2 separate regions of the Homo sapiens genome follow, and region 1 is linked to region 2. The links come from fine-mapping of genetic effects on gene expression. Tissue or cell type: esophagus mucosa. Region 2 holds a variant in brackets; the other region holds the start of a gene. All regions are shown on one strand. Distances are between the middles of the regions.

Region 1 (5,144 bases), 59 kb after region 2:
CCAAGAGCAGAGCCCCAGTATCCTCCCTCCAGCCACCAGGTAACAGAGCCCCAAAACCCCGAGGCAAAAGTTTCTCAAGTTGAAAAAAAAAAAAAAAAAAAAAGGCCTTCAGACTTCCCCACAGCGGTTTTCCGCGGGGGCGGGCAGAGGTTTTCTGAGGCCGTGGCTCCCCTTCAGGCGGCTGGGTCCACTGGGCCTGGCCTTCGGCCCCTGCACCTACCGGCTGGTTCGCAGCAGGGGGAGGGGGTGGGGGAGAGCTCAAAATGCCCGGTGCCCGCAGGGCATGGCGGTCAGGGGGCCCTTCAGCCCTGGTTTTCTGTGGAAAGTGAGCTTCTGGGTTCGACAGTGGGACCGGCACAGACCTTCCCGCAGCTACAGGCCATACGACAACCCCGCTGCTCTTTCTTTCTGCGGGCACTCGGGCCAGTCCTAACAATTGCCCCTCAAGCTGTGTGTGCTGCCCTAACCCTCAATCCCGAACCCGAAACAGTGCGTGCTGGGACGAATCTAGGCAGGTCTCCGAAACCGGGGTGAAGATGCTGAAGTTCAGGTAAAAACCCGCATTGGCCAAAATGCTCCCGGGCTTTCTCGGGAGTCACCCGAATGGCAACTTCAGGCTCGGGTTTGGTTCTCCGGACTCCCCACCCCTATTCCCGGCTCCAGGCGCCGCGGTCAACCTGCGGGGAGACTAGACGTTGGGGTGCCAGACACGCGGTGATCTCCAGACGCCCGAAACGCCAGGCGCCGAGTGAGCGAGGAAACCAGCCGGGAGGGGGCTGGCCAGGGAAGCCGGGGAGCAAAGGAAAGAGCGGGGCGCGCTCTGGGCTCAGGGTTCCCATACCCTTTCCCCCCAACCTAGGATCGGGGTGGGACGCAGGTGTGTTCACGAGATCGCCCCAGTTGGGGGACACAGGGAATCCGCCGCCGTCTGGGCCTGTCTCAAAATCCGCATTCCGCGAAATTACCCGGTCCTTTATGGGGGCGGCCGGGACCCCAGGTCGCATTCTAGCGCCACTGGCTGTGCTCTGACGCAGCCCAAGGAAGTTTGTTTGGCGTGGATGAGGAGCCCGAGGCTGAAGCGCCGCCGGTCAGAGAGGTGCTGGGGTTGTCCAGGGGAGATACCAGACTCCTCAGTTGGGGCGGGGGGGGGTCCTGCTCGGTCACTCCGGGCTCCTTCCCTGGTGGCCTCCGGGCCCCCGTGGCCGCCCTCTCTTCCCCCCTTAAGTGGTGAAGCGGGAGCTCTCTCCACAGCGGGTGAGTAGAGGTGTCAGCCAGATCGTTTCCCCACCCTCCACCTCCGGCGCACAAATCACAGGGGCCATTTCCAGACGCTCTCAAGTCCCCAAGAAGTTTTCCGCTCTATCCCCGAGCTGACCGAGCGATGGAAAAGGGGCTGACTGGCCCTGGCACTTCCGAGGTGCGACCTCAGCAAGACAAGTCCCCTCTTCACCAGAGACGACACGGCGGGTAGGACCGCGATCCCCCGCTCTCTTGCCCCCATTTTCATCTGTCTCCGGCGCGTCCTGGGGAGTCCGGTACCGACTAGAGTTGGGGGGAGCCACTTCCCTTCCCAGCTCTGGAAAGTCTGGGCCGGGAAGTATTCTTTGTCTGACTCGGGGCGGGGAGGGGGTCGCGCCCCCGTACACCCCATTCCCAGAGGCCCGGCGGGGAGGGGGCGGGGCCCAGATTCTTGGGGAAGGGCGGGCCTCGGTGGCCTCTCCGGCCGCCCCCCTCCCCGCCCCGGCCTCCGGCTGCCCCCACTCCCGCCGCGCCACAGCCCCCACCTGTTCCCGAGGCAGCTCCGGCCCGCTGGGGCCCGGGCCAGGGGCGGAATGTCGCGGCTGCGCGGGGTCAGTGCGCCACGGCCGGCCCTGGCTGGAACAAAGTGCGCCGGCCCGGGCCCGGCTCCTCCTGGCGCCCGGCGCCCAGCGCGTCTCGGGCGGGCAGTTTGCAAACACAAAGTGAGCCAGCGAGCGGGCGAGAGAGTGCGCGAGCGAGGGAGTTGGTCTGGTCGCCCGCCCAGCCCCCACCCACGTCCCTGGGCCCGACCCGCCACCTACCTGTCCCGCCCGGCCGCTCCGTGCGGGCTCCGGCCCGTCAGCCCGCGCGGGGCATGGGGCTCGCTCCGGTCGCAGCCCGGGCCCGCCGCCGCCCGCCGGGGCTGCCCTTCCGCGCCGCCCCGCGTCGCGCAGCTCCCGGGCGTCCTCCCAGCGCGCCGGGCCGACCGCCGCGCGCCTCAACCCCGCCGGGGCATGGCACTTTGTGGGCTGCTTGGCTCGCTCCGGCTCCGCTCTTCCTTCCCGGTCCTTCCGCGACGCTCGTCAGCTCGCTCCGGCTCCCGGGCTCCCGGACCCCGGCGTCCCCGCCCCCGGCCCAGCCCTGGTTCCGGCCCGGGCTCCTCCCCGCCGCGCCGCCGCCGCCTGCGCCGCGCCCTCCTCGCGGGCTGGGGGCTCCGTCCCGGCCGCCGGCCGCCGGCCGCACTGTCCGGTCCGCAGGGACGGCGGGCTCCGGACTCCGAGGGGCTGCGACTGAGCCTGGGCTGCGAGTGGCTGCGAGCGGGCGGCGCGCGGGCGGGGCGGGAGGGGGCGGGGGAGGAGGAGGGTGGAGAGGGAAGGAGGGAGCGCGCGGAGAGCGAGGGAGGAGGGAGCGAGAGAGCAAGCGGCGGAGGGAGGGGAGACCAACTTCTAGTGCTACCATAATTCGCCTAAAGCAGGTGCAGCAACTTTCACCCCGCCTGGCAGCCCGCTGAGAGCGAGAGAAAACCACGTGCACCAAACTTTAGGGGAGGAAAAATGGGAACGTGGGGAGAAGACGTGAGGCGGCAGATCTGAAAAAGATGGTAGGTGGAGGGACCCCAGGGATTCACCCTGGCCTCGGACTAATCCTATGGGGCGCTTGCAAACCCCGGCCATCCCCTGGAGTCTGAAGGTACGGCCAAGTCCTGATCCCACACGGTTCACTGGTTCCCGGCGGGCTGCGCTCGGCGCGGGGAGTGGCCGGGGGCCCAGAGACGGAGCCAGTGTCAGGCCCGGGCCCTGTCTGGCCTCCCTCCTGCTCCCCACTGCGTGGGGGCTGGGGGTGGGCTTCCTGAGCCGAGGGTAGAAGGTGGGGAGGCCCCTTCAGGGCTTTGTGAACGGTCACCCCCTGGCGCGCACTGCCTCCCTCTGCGGAAAGGGAATTTCCCGTAAAGTGCTCTGCGAACCAGTGAAGAAGGGGCCCAAGGCCAGAGCCATGCGGGCAAAGTGAAGTGCAAAGTTGAGGCAATTATCCGGACAAATTAGATTGTAAACAAAACCCCGCGTCTCTGAACATCGCTTTTGCCCAGGGGGACTGGAGGGATTGTGGTGGTGGCGGCGATGGTGTGTTTGGGTTGGGAGGGGGAGGTCTGGGTGAGGAAATGCCCACGGCCCAAGGGGGAGGGCTGTGTTGTTAGCAGACGCACCACTCAGAGTCCCGTGGAAATCTCAATACCCGTCCCCCTCCCCGCCCCACACACGCCGGAAACATCTCCCATCTGTCTGCATGTGTTGGGGGTGGGGAGAAGTGAAGGAGGCCTCAGGGGTCCTCATGAAGTACCCCAACCCAGCTCAGTGATGCCGGGTCCCCATGACCAAGGGAGGATCCTGTTGTGGGATCAGGACAAGAAGACAGTGGCTCTTGAAGCCTCTCCTGGCCCTAAATCCTCAGGCAGGTGGACAAGAGGCTGGCATAGTATGTGAGCCCCTGTGGAGTGGGAGCTGGAAGCCTGAGGTGTGGGGTCGGAGCTGCAAGGATTGATGCTTAGTTGCCTGGGGGGAGGGGATTTCTTGGCCGTTCCAGTGGTCCTTGAAAGAAAAGGGGACCTCAGAGAGGAGGCACCCTCTTGGGTTGTTTTTCATCACTTCTGTCCCTTTTCTGCAATGTTAGTGACACCTGCACAGGTCCACATTTTATGTATTTGCCTTTTTGGGCAGGTGGGACAGGCATACTTAGGTCCTGCTGGAGCGTTTTAGATTTCTAGGTGTGAAATTGTGCAGGGAAGACTCTAAGTGCCATTTATGTGGATATCTCAGTGTCCTTTCCAGTGTGGCAACTGAGATAACCATAGCCATAAGAATAAAATAACAGCTAACATCTGAGTCGTACCACCCACCAGCCATTTAATCTTCACAGTAACCCCAGGAGGGAGATATTTGTATTATCTCCATTTTATAGAAGAGGAAACTGAGGCACAAAGAGATCAAGTAACTTGCCCAGGCTTACACAGCTGCTGGTCAGTGATGAGCCAGATTCCAACTAGAGCCACTTCAGTGAGGACAAGAAAGAAGCTCATGGTGGTCTCTGAAGCGACACTGCCTGCTTGTGGGTTAGCTGAGGGGAAGGATATTCTGGGAGAAAGAAAGCCCTTGGTAGTACTATCTGATTTACCTTCTGTTGAGGCCCAGCTCTGGTGGAAATCATGGTGTGTGGACAGCCCTAGGCCAAGCCTGGAGTGGCAAGTCCTTGTGTCAGACCAGCTGGGCCAGTGACTATGTCCTCAGTTCTCCTTCCTATCCTTCTTGCAGCAAAGGCTGAGGGTGGGGTGAGAACTAGGGGCTTTGGAGACAAAAGAGAGAATTTCTGTAGGGGGGTATTGAATGAGGTGACCTCCGAGGGGCTTCTCCAGCCCTTTTCTGGCTGGTTCACTGAATGTTTTTCCCATCCCCTTCCTGCAGCAGCCCTTGTACCTTACACATGGGCTCACTTGCCCAGAGGGATTGCCCTGGGAAATGCTTCACTTTCAGTTCAGTTTACCCCTCATCTCCAGGCCAGTTCAGTTCCCAGCTCCCTGTGAGCTACAGTGGGGGCTCAAGGCATCAAAAGACCCTGTCTTGTCTTCACCTAAAGGGCATTTTAGCGAGGAAGACAAAGCCTCCCCAAAGAAAGATACAGAACAAATGCCCCGAAATCAAAGAAGCCAGTCCAAAGCCCTTCTTCCTGGTGCAAGAGCTTCGTTAAGAAGGTTGAAAAGAGTAGCCCTTGGCTCCAAAGTGGGAGTGACCGGGAGCAGGCAGGAGGGTCCTCTTTCTGTCCTTGTTCCTTCACAGGACTCAGGGCAGGTGCAGGTGCTTTGGCGGTGGCCGGAACCAAGGCTCATGGCTTGGCCCCTCCAGGGGGGCCATAGT
Region 2 (5,119 bases):
GAAGCTTCCAGTTGCCAAGTCCATGGAAGCAGCTCCCAGGCCTCGAATTTTGGGAACCCTTTGGCCTCTGTCACAGTGAACCCTCAGGACTGCCCTCTCTTGTGGTTCTCCTTCCTTGCCATCCCCGGACTATCCCCACCTTCCTTTGTGGCCACATCTCCTGCCCCACCACCAGATGTGGGCCCAGATGTGCTTTGCCAATTTCCATCTGTCCAGTCCTGGGCATGGGAGCCACTTGATGTCCTGCCACCCCTGCAAACCCCTTTAACATTTTATCTTTTCCCTTGCTTGTCTTGAGCCCACAGGGGCTGAGAGGATAAGAATTATTCCTGTGGCACGGACCCCAAATCTTGGGGCCATTCTTCTTTTATTTATTGATTTATTTATTAAATCCCCCCTTTATTTATTTATTTATTTATTTATTTATTTATTTATTTATATATTTATTTATTTAAAGGCAGGGTCTCACTCTCTTGCCCAGGCTGGAGTGCAGTGGCACGATCTCAGCTCACTGGAGCCTCCGCCTCCCGGGTTCAAGCAATTCTCCCACCTCAACCTCCCGAGTAGCTGGGATTACAGGTGCGCCCGGCAAATTTTTGCATTTTTAGTAGAGACGGGTTTCACCATGTTAGTCTGGGTGGTCCCGAACTCCGACCTCAGGTGATCTGCCCACCTCAGCCTCCCAAAGTGCTGGGATTACAGGCATGAGCCACTGCACCTGGCCCATTCTTTTTTTATTTTTAAGTGAAATATTCCAGCCACAAAAAGGTACAGAGAAGAACAGATTTAACCTCTGTGTTCCCACCACCCAGCTCCAATACTAACCATTACCAACAGACTTGAAGCCCCTTGAATACTCCTCCCCATTGCATCCCCCTCCCCAGAGTGACAGCCACCATCTTGAATTTGTTATTTATCATTCCTACAAATTATTTAAATGTTTGCTACATGTGTGCCCATACATGATATATAGAATTATTACATGTTTTCAAACATTATACAAATGAGAACAGTCTCTATGTATCTTTCTTCAACTTACTTTTTTTTTTTTTGCTCAAATTTACCCTGCTGATGGGAGCTCTTTATTTATTCTCTTTGCAATATAATATTCCATTGTCAAATGTGCCACACTTGATTTCCCTCTCTCCTGCGAATAGACATTTAGGAAGACCCCGTTGAGCTCGTTCCTGACCTCCTTTCTCTCAGGTAGCCAACAGCCCCTCTTTTACTCTGTTGTTTTGCAAAAAGCCTCCTGACACTATTTTCCAAAGCAACCCCCCACCCTACTTAGGCCTTCATCATCTGTCACCTGGACAATCCCAAGAGTCACCTAATTGGCTCCTGTCACCCTATATGGTTCCACTTGGCCTATTCCCCCAATCTCAGGTCAATCCTGTTACTTCTCTGCTCTAAATGCCCCTGTGGGCACAGCTCCCCCAAGCCCCAGCTTGGTCCCCAGCTTGACCTCCGGGGTCCTCCCCTGTCTGGTGCCTGCCTTTCCACTATCACCTCCCAGTAACCCAGTCTCCCTGTCCAGCCTTCCTGGCTGTCCCCAGGTGTCCTGCCCAGTCCACCTGTGTGTTTTCAGCTATCCCCTGCCTTGCAAACTTTCCTGCTAAGTCGAATCTCTATGGCTCTGCTCTGCACACCTCTGAAGGTCACAGCACCACTCACTGGCCCCTGCCACACCTGTGAAGTACCTATTTAAGTCCAAGACAGTCCCTCTGTGGATGGAAACTCCCCAGTGGCATCAACAGCAGCAGCAGCATCGCCACTTACTGGCATTAGCAGGTGTGGGCATGCTCATGCCACCAAGTCGGGTAATTCTCCCCTTAACCTTCTGAGTAGTCAGGGAGTCCTAGGGCCACTTTATAGGAAACCACACCCCAATTCACCTGCCCAAAGCCCAGGGCCAGTCAGTTGGTAATGACAGGGATGGGGCCAGGTTTCTTTTTTTTTTTTTTTAGACGGAGTCTCGCTCTGTTGCCCAGGCTGGACTGCAGTGGCACAATCTCGGCTCACTGCAAGCTCCACCTCCCGGGTTCACGCCATTCTCCTGCCTCAGCCTCCTGAGTAGCTGGGACTACAGGCGCCCGCGACCACGCCTGGCTAATTTTTTGTATTTTTAGTAGAGACGGGGTTTCACCGTGTTAGCCAGGATGGTCTCCATCTCCTGACCTTGTGATCCGCCCACCTTGGCCTCCCAAAGTGCTGGGATTACAGGCGTGAGCCACCGCGCCCGGCCCCGGGGCCAGGTTTCTAAGACCCTGTTGACCTCCTTGCCTCGGCCTCTGTCTCTGCTGCCTCCATTTAATTTTTTGTTTTCTTCCACATTAACCTTCCCTAAGCTCCATCTCAGTTCCCCTGCAGGCCTAGAATGTTCTTTCTTCTCCCCTCTTTCTACCCAAATTTCCCCTCCTCAGCTCCAGAACTCTTCCAGGGAGTCTTCCAGGATACACTGGTCCCCAGTAAGCACTTAGGTCCCTCTGAGCCCCTATGGTGACTGGCACCCAGGACTCCATTTTATTAACAGCCATTATGTATTGAGGGCATATTATGCACCAGACATCTTTTTTTTTTTTTTTTTTTTTTTGAGACGGAGTCTCGCTCTGTCGCCCAGGCCGGACTGCGGACTGCAGTGGTGCAATCTCGGCTCACTGCAAGCTCCGCTTCCCGGGTTCACGCCATTCTCCTGCCTCAGCCTCCCGAGTAGCTGGGACTACAGGCGCCCGCCACCGCGCCCGGCTAATTTTTTGTATTTTTAGTAGAGACGGGGTTTCACCTTGTTAGCCAGGATGGTCTTGATCTCCTGACCTC[G/A]TGATCCACCCACCTTGGCCTCCCAAAGTGCTGGGATTACAGGCGTGAGCCACCGCACCCGGCCCAGACATCTTTTTATATATCATTAATCTTCTCAACAAGCCAGTGATGTAGAGATTATTACTCCACCCCATTCTACAAATGAGAACTCTGAGGCCCAGAGAGGTCCAGTGGCTTTCCCAATGCCACAGACCTGGCAAGCAGCAGAGCCAGGATTTGAACCCTTGTGTTTACTCCCTCACAGCACATGACAGTCGGCTGATCTCCATCTGTTTCCCAGCCAGAGAAGCAGCTCTCAGAGAACAGAGACCCACCCTGTGTTTCTCTGGTGACCACCCACCCTTACCCCCTGTACCTGGCCCACTCCTGGAGCCCAAGCATGGTGGCCTTGTATAGACAGGCCTGCATTCCAGGTCCCAGAGCAGGAGAGGCCCTCGTGGGAGGGCCAGGGCCAGAAGCCCAGAGTGCCAGCTTGGTTACCCAGCCCACCACTGCACTGTCCCTGTTAATTCAGCCAGTCTTCTGAAGGTTGCCAGCCCCCACGCCCTGTCCCTGGCCCCTCCTGGCTAGGACAGAGGGCCTTTCAGCCTGGGCTGCCACCATGACTGCCTTCTCAGGAGGGGCTGTTTTTCTAAACTTTTGATCCTGAGGCGGATGCAGACTGCAGGCCAGTGAGGTGTCGGGGGTTCTGTGTGGTGGGATGTCCCACCCTGGGGGTCCATTTCTGGTCACCTAGAGATGACTGCAGATGGAAGGGACCTCTGGTGTCAGTATATCGGGTAGTAGCATGTGCATGTGTGTGTGAAGGTGTGTGCTGTGCATGAGGGGTGTCATTTTAAAGTCCCCACCACAGACAGGGGGATCTTTGTCTGCACTGCTCTGCCTCACCGTCCCATCAGAAGGGCCCCTGTCTGATTATTTTTATAGGGTAATTCAGACTTCTCTGCCTCACTCTGTCCTTCAGTGACTGTTTCAAGATCAATTTACCTTATTCTGCTTAGAGTAGAATGGCAGCTGGGGAACTCAGAAGCCAGGGCCTAATTCCCAGCTTCGAGGCGCTCGGAGCCTCATTTCCCCACTCGGAGCCTCCAGAGAAGGAGGGAAGCAGCGATCACCAAAGTAAATCGTGTCACTAGAAAGCAGGGGCAAACCACAGGGTCTCCCTCTTCTCTTTCCCCACCGTCAGCCACAGGTTCATTTTTTTTTTTAAACCCAGAACCCGGATTGCTCATCTGCAAAGATTCTTTATTCTTAATGCTTTATCTGCTCATCTCTTTGACTCTGCCTCAGTCTCTTCATCTATAAAATGGGGATAATAATACCTAACTCAGAGTCGTTTTGGGGATGAAATGAAATATAAAGCTTCTAGGATAGTGCCTGGCACATAATGAGGGCTCATTAACTGTTAATAATTATTACTATTAAAAACAGGTACTGAGCCCTCCGCTGTACGGCGGCTGGCATTCTCAGGGAAGTTGTTCTGTGCCCCGGAAACAGGCAAGTTTGTCCAGAGGAGCCGGTCTGCTTTGTTTAAAGCGCCCTCTGCTGACCATCGGCAAGAAGGCCTTGGGCAAGGTGGCGAGTTCATGGTGGGGGAGCGAAGTGCTGAGTGCCAAGGGGAAGGGGGACTTCTGTCGGATGCAGAGCGCAGAGCGCTACTTATCCCACCCCTAAAACGTCCGGCTTGGAGTATTTCTCTTTTTTTTTTCCCCAGGTTCCAAAGATAGCTTCCCCAACAGGGCTCAGCAATGCTAAGACCAGGACAAGCTGCCAGCTGCAGTTAACAGCCTACTCCCTGGCTGTGAGTTAACAGTAGAAAGGAGAGAAGCTACATACCCAGCATGCAGCGCTTCCTGAGGCAAAGCGTGATGGGGGTTGGGGGTGGGGTGGACATGTTGGTTCATACTTCGAATAAGGTAATAATTGTGGGAGGGCTGCCCCATGTAGGATGTCAGATCAGGAAGAAAATAAATTACTGAGTCTATAAGCCCAATGCACCCAGAAGGTGGTGGTTCATAACAGCTCTTGTTTCTTATATTGCAAGACCCTCTCCTGTACCAGTGTCCAAAATAGATCATCACCCCACCTGCAAATGCACTGACCATTCACTATATCCCTGTGAGAGGAATAAAAAGAGGACTCTAGTTGAAGCAGGAGAAACTGAAGTTAGACCGCGGGAAGGACGGTCCTGAGAATAAAGCTAGGTGCAGTCTTGTCCCTCCAGAGTCTGGCATAGGAAGAATGCCCCCGGGGCTGGTCCACAGAACTGACTACTTCTTCAAGGGGGCAGAGTAAGGGGGCT

The links. PIP is the estimated chance that this variant, and not a neighbour inherited with it, causes the effect.
Region 1: it holds the start of FOXP4, and the variant in region 2 is fine-mapped to the expression of FOXP4 in esophagus mucosa (GTEx, PIP above 0.99).

Annotation. Positions count from the first base shown.
Region 1 is chr6:41,543,784-41,548,927 of GRCh38, reverse strand. FOXP4 (forkhead box P4) reads right to left here and starts at 2,547. Exons shown (of 17, transcript NM_001012426.2): 1 at 2,061-2,547. It overlaps FOXP4-AS1 (FOXP4 antisense RNA 1), which reads left to right and starts at 307. Exons shown (of 2, transcript NR_126415.1): 1 at 307-550. RefSeq lists silencers at 1,231-1,380, 1,671-1,850, 1,921-2,600, 2,931-3,200, 4,243-4,537 and an enhancer at 2,751-2,860.
Region 2 is chr6:41,602,483-41,607,601 of GRCh38, reverse strand. No RefSeq gene overlaps it. Among named protein-coding and RNA genes, the nearest start is that of MIR4641, 6.3 kb to the right of the region's middle. RefSeq lists an enhancer at 4,237-4,531. The variant G/A (reference allele first, on the strand shown) is at 2,818.